2 separate regions of the Homo sapiens genome follow, and region 2 is linked to region 1. Evidence: fine-mapped expression QTL. A gene starts in region 1. The other region holds a variant in brackets. All regions are shown on one strand. Distances are from middle to middle.

Region 1 (2,913 bases):
AGTTCATTGTGTATTTATTTTGGAGGCAACATCAAATAAAAGAGGAGCATACATGAAAAAAGGGGTTGGTTAACTTAGTGTAGTATGAAGTTACAAACAAAAAAGGGTGATGGTAGTGCAGTGTTTTGAATTAACATGGAACAATGTGTGTGAAGGAATAATTGATCCAGAACTTTATTGTAGAAACCTGTCCCCATCAAAGCCATACATGGGGCTGTATATATATGTCCAGAGAAAAGGTCTTCTGCACACTTAACTGTAACTGTTAGTCATAATTTCTCTGCAGAGTGGGATGGTGGGGCTAGGAGGAAGGACTTTCACTTTTAATTTTATGATACTCCAAATCATTTGCATTTTTTTTTTACAAAAATTATGTATAATTTTTCTTTTTTTTTTCTTTTTGAGACGGAGTCTCGCTCTGTCCCCCAGGCTGGAGTGCAGTGGTGCGATCTCGGCTCACTGCAAGCTCCGCCTCCCGGGTTCAAGCGATTCTCCTACCTCAGCCTCCCGAGTAGTTGGGATTACAGGCGCGCGCCTCCACGCCCAGCTAATTTTTGTATTTTTTAATTAGAGACAGGGTTTCACCATGTTGGCCAGGCTGGTCTCGAACTCCTGACCTCGTGATCCACCCGCCTAAGCCTCCGAAAGAGCTGGGATTACAGGCGTGAGCCACCGCGCCCGGCCCAAGATCATGTATAATTTCTATAACAAAAACAATAAAGGAAATAAAAATGTCTTCAGTGTTGTACCTTGTACTTGGCCTATGTTACAACAGGAATGACATATATTCCATTTTTAAGACATTACTTAGGGCTTTATAGATTTCTGCTTTAAGGAATAAATGCAATTTCAATCTATTTAAGACTTGATTTCTTCTTATATAAAAAAAGTATCTGATCTTGTATCTAATTTGTTATGACAGTACCATCACTTAAAGTACAGCAATTATGCAACCCCTGAATTTGAATTTCATTTTGCAAGTGTACATGACCTCACGGACAAAGCGAAGGCAGAAAGTTAAAATCAGCATATCGAAAATAAATCACTCTAGTTACCGAAAAGAACATAGGGTATCTGAACAAAATCTCAGAGCTCACATAGGCATAGATACTTCCATGTGAACTTTAGGAATCTTGCCTTATCTAACTTTTGCAGGGCTGAGTGGACCCCCTGCTCCCGCTAGCCGTTTTGGGAGCACCAGCCACCTCCACACCAGAACTGGGCTGTCGGGGGCCGCTGCGGCGCAGGGGCTCGTCCGGGACTGAGTCAGCGCCGGGGCCGAGAAGTTCGGCGGGAGGCGCAGGGCGGGGCTTCCTCCCGCCGACTCCGAGCCCGGCTCTACTTTTCTGAGTCCACGTCTCTTCCTTTGGACAGGCGTGTTTCCCCAGGTCGGGCCCAGCCAACGTGACAGCCGCAGACCTCGGAAAAGGGCGCTCCGGCCCCGCCTCGAGGATTTCCCCCGGCCGCTAGGGCAGCCCGGGCCCGCTCGGCCCAGCCCCTCACGGACTGCGGCGCGCGGCTCCCCGGGGCCCGGCCCGCCGAACGCCTCGCTCTACAGCCCTCACCTCGCGGCGCCGAGCGCAGCGTCCGCGGCATGGAGACCGGCTCCGACTCAGGTCAGAGGCCCGCCCCCGGGCCGCGGGGGACTGGCCCTGCGCGCGCGGCGGCGCGGTTAGGCCGGGCCGCCCGCACAGGCCGCCGCGTGTCGAGTCCGCGCGGGGAGCGCACGCGGGGCGGGCGGCGACAGGTGGGCAGGACGAGCCGCGAGCGAGCGAGGGCGGGCGGGCGCGCGAGGGGCCCGGCGGGGGGGCCGCTGGGAGGATGGCTCAGCTCTTTCTAAATATAAAACCGGCGTGAGTTGGGCGAGCGCGGCGCGGAGTCGCAGAGCCGCCGCGCGGGCCTGGCGCACGGGGATTCGGCCGCACAGACGGCGGCGGCGGCAGCGGCAGCGGCTCCGCAGAGGCGCGAGGCTGCGGGAGCGCCCGAGTCGCGAGCTCGCGGGGGCAGCGAAGGGCGACGCTCGCGACGCGGAGGACGCAGGCGGCGGCGGCGGGCGGGCCTCGGGGCACAGCGCGGTCCGCGCCGAGTGAACGGAGGCGGCTCGCGGCCCCTGCCGCACCGCGAGCCGCGAGCCCCCCGGCCGCGCCCTGCCCCCCCAGCCCCTCCCTCGTTCCCTCCCCGGCGCAACATGGCTGCGGCCGCCGCCTCCGCCTCCCAGGATGAGCTGAGTAAGTGCCGCGGCCGAACCTGCGGCCGCGAGCCGGAACGGGCGCCGCGCGGTGCCGGGGGCCGGCGGCCGCATGAGGGCTGGGGCGCCAGGCCCGGTGGGCGGGCGGCGGCCGCGGCGTACGGGGAGCTGGGGAGCCCGGGCCTGGCGGACGGGCGGGGCGCGGACCGTCGCCGCTGGCGTTTGTAGGCCTCAGGTTTGCACCGTCACGTTGCGAAATTGAAACCGGAGCCCCGGGCGGAGCCACCTCTGCCCGCGATCCGCCCTGGCCCGGGGTCGGGGGAGCCCAGCCCCCTGCCCACTGAGCCTCGGCTGGCGGGAGGGCCGGAGCCCCGGGGTGACGGGCAGTGTCCGCCCGTCCCGTCTGACCCCGCCTGGCCCCGGGTCCCCGACGGCTGGTTGAGTTATAGAAATGGAGCTTTCGGGAAGGGGGAGAAGGTGCCTTTTTGTGACACTCTAGTAATCAGCCGAAAGGTCACGAATAGGCGGTGACCCTCAGATGGAGCAGGGAGGGCGGAGAGGGTCGCCGGTCGAACCGCAGGAGAAACCACGGGGTGACAGCGCTTTCAGAAAGGAGAGTTAGTGCCCCCTCGATCGTACGCGGTGCAGCCTTCCCGGGGACGGCGGTCCCTGTCTGGGGAGAGCGGTGGTCACCCTGAATCCCAGGCCGCCCCGCCCGCCGCCGG
Region 2 (2,913 bases), 270 kb after region 1:
ATGAATAACTTGTTAACTGACCAATTAGTATAAAATCATATATATATATACACACATATATATATGTGTATATATATATACACACACATATATATATGTATATATATATATACACATATATATATATGTATATATATATATATATATATATAAAATAACATAATAGCTATTTGAGTGCTTATTCTCTGACAGACCCTGGGTTAAGCAATTGATAGGCATTTTCTCATGAATCCTTACAACCATCCCATATGGTTGGTCCTATTATTTCCCGTAGTTTTTAGATAAGGAAAGTGATGCTTTGTTTTTTATTTCTGTATCTTTTTTTCTTTATTTGTGAATTATTTAATTTTGAAAGAGTGTGAAAATTTTTCCTTTAGGCTGTTGAAATTTCTGATTTGCCATATCCTAGGAAATAGAAATAATAAAAAGCTGCCAATGAATGTGTATTGACACTAGAAGTATAAGCAGATGCTCTTGGGTTCTCAGAGGTTAAGTAACTTTCCCAGGATCAGTCAATAAGAAGCACTGCAGAACTGTCAACTACATAAAAGAAGTATGTTGCATAAGAAAAATACTGAAGGGAACACAACAAACTCTTAAGTAGTTACCGTGAAACTGGTTATTTGTGCATGTGATTGCTATTTTTCTATATTTTCCAAAATTTTCACAAGTATGTCATTTTAATGAGACGGAATAAAGTTTGTGAACACACTAACCTGACCAAACATCTTAAGACCATTTCAGGCCGGGCTCAGTGGCTCACACCTGTAATCCCAGCACTTTGGGAGGCTGAGGCTGGTGGATCACGAGGTCAGGAGATCAAGACCATCCTGGCTAACATGGTGAAACCCCGTCTCTACTAAAAATACAAAAAAAAAAAAATTAGCTGGGCATGGTGGCGGGCACCTGTAGTCCCAGCTACTTGGGTGGCTGAGGCAGGAGAATGGCATGAACCTGAGAGGCGGAGCTTGCAGTGAGCAGAGATTGCGCCACTGCACTCCAGCCTGGGCGACAGAGCGAGACTCCATCACACACACACACACACACACACACACACACACACACAAAAGACCATTTCGATAATTTCCCATTGACAAATTTGGATTTATGAATGCAGATCTGTTCAGTTATTCACAGTTGTGTGTCTTTCTCTTCCTTGACCAGTTTCCACCCCTGACCATTTTCCCCCTGAATATTTAAACAACTCACAACTGTATAGTATGGAAATTTCACTTCTGCAATGGCCTCTTCAAGTTGGTCCTTTGCCTAATGATCAACTCAAACAAGAAGGGAATGTTTCCTGCTTATGTTTATAAGGTTGGGCATTATCAATGAGGTGGTAAGATAGGGAAGATGTGTCCACAGTGCAAGAGGGCAGGACTATTCTGTGAGCATGCCAGTGAAGCCACACCAACGATACTGCAGTTGTGTAGCCAGATATTGGTATGTGAATAGCAAAAAACCTAACTGCCACACAAATAACCTTTAGGTATCTGGAAAAGCCAGTTTCATTTTCAATGTTTAAAATAGGAGCTCCTTA[A/G]CTTTTCCAGAAAGCTGGGGGTATAAAAAGTCATTAGGGTATAATGGAAAATACACTGCACTGAGATCAAGACCAAATATCATTACTTACTTTTTGTAAGATCTTGGTTAGGAGCCTTATGATTTTTTTAATTTTTATTTTTGGACAAGTTCTCAGTCTGTCGCCCAGCCTGGAGTGCAATGGCGTGTTCATGGCTCACAGTGGCTTCAACCTCCTGGTCTCAAGCAATCTTCCCACCTCAGCCTTGTGAGTAGCTGGGACCACAGGAAGGTGCCACTATACCTAGCTAATTAAAAAAAAAATTGTAGTCATGGGGTCTTGCTGTATTGCCCAGGCTGGTCTTGAACTCCAAGGCTCAAGCAATCTTCATGCCTCGGCCTCCCAAAGTGCTGGTATTATAGGTGAGTGCCACCACACCTGGTCAGATTTTTGAGCCTCAGTTTCCTCACCTGTAAAATGGAGAACATAGTATAACTTTCCTTTCCACTTCAGTCATTTTGAGAATCAAATAAGATAATGTAAATTATAGCTTGTTGTAATCTTTAAAACCCAATACCAATAAAAGGCATCCTTACTTTTCACTGAAATTATTCCCAGATCATTGCATGCCAAAGATGAATTTTTCCTAAAATTAATTACAGTAAAAAACCCCAACGAAACCTCAAATTACCAGGTATTTGAATTTCATCTTTGAAAGTTTGCCGTGTTACAATTCTTCATCCAGTGACATTGAGCAAGAAGAAGAATTAGCAAGTCAACCACTGCAACATATATCAAGATTTATCCTGTGAGCTCAAATCATTTTTCCATTTCTGCTTCAATTTTTTTTTTCACTTATTACATAATTGGTTATTTTTTAGTTTTGAAATAGTACATAAAATTTACCCTTTTCTTTAGACGTTTCTGATTTGCTGTGTTATAGGAAATAGAAATAAGAAAAAGCTGTTAATGAGCAGTTACATGTGGATGCTTCTGAGATCTCTGAATTTCTGAGAAAGAATAATGCACCCCATTTCTGGGATGGTTGGAAATGCTTCACTGCTTTCTGCTTCTACTGACACCAGGACTGCAGAGCAGAGGGGGTAACTAACAGGGGCAAGGAGAAACAGCAGCGATGGATGAGATGGCCTATAAGATGGTCTTTGGTCACAGCAGAGAGACTTCTGGAGTCATCCAGGAATTTTGCTGGAAGTCAAAATAGCTGGGGAAGAGGAGATGGGAAGACGCAGAATTGAGGCTCCAGCAGTTTATCTTGTAAGGTCACAGACATATGTTTTGGTTGTGCTTATTTATCCAGATCCAGTGTATGGTCCTATCTTAGGCTGGTGGTCTGTTATGCCACATTTTTGTTGTCCGTGCTTTCATTGTGATGT

The links. PIP is the estimated chance that this variant, and not a neighbour inherited with it, causes the effect. A credible set is the group of variants that fine-mapping cannot tell apart.
Region 2: its variant is the best candidate, but not a certain one, in a credible set for the expression of ECPAS in fibroblasts (GTEx, PIP 0.75).

The regions. Positions count from the first base shown.
Region 1 is chr9:111,482,819-111,485,731 of GRCh38, reverse strand. It overlaps ECPAS (Ecm29 proteasome adaptor and scaffold), which reads left to right and starts at 1,349. Exons shown (of 50, transcript NM_001364929.1): 1 at 1,349-1,616. RefSeq lists silencers at 1,250-1,789, 1,910-2,029, 2,300-2,719.
Region 2 is chr9:111,216,584-111,219,496 of GRCh38, reverse strand. No RefSeq gene overlaps it. Among named protein-coding and RNA genes, the nearest start is that of MIR7702, 53 kb to the left of the region's middle. The variant A/G (reference allele first, on the strand shown) is at 1,541.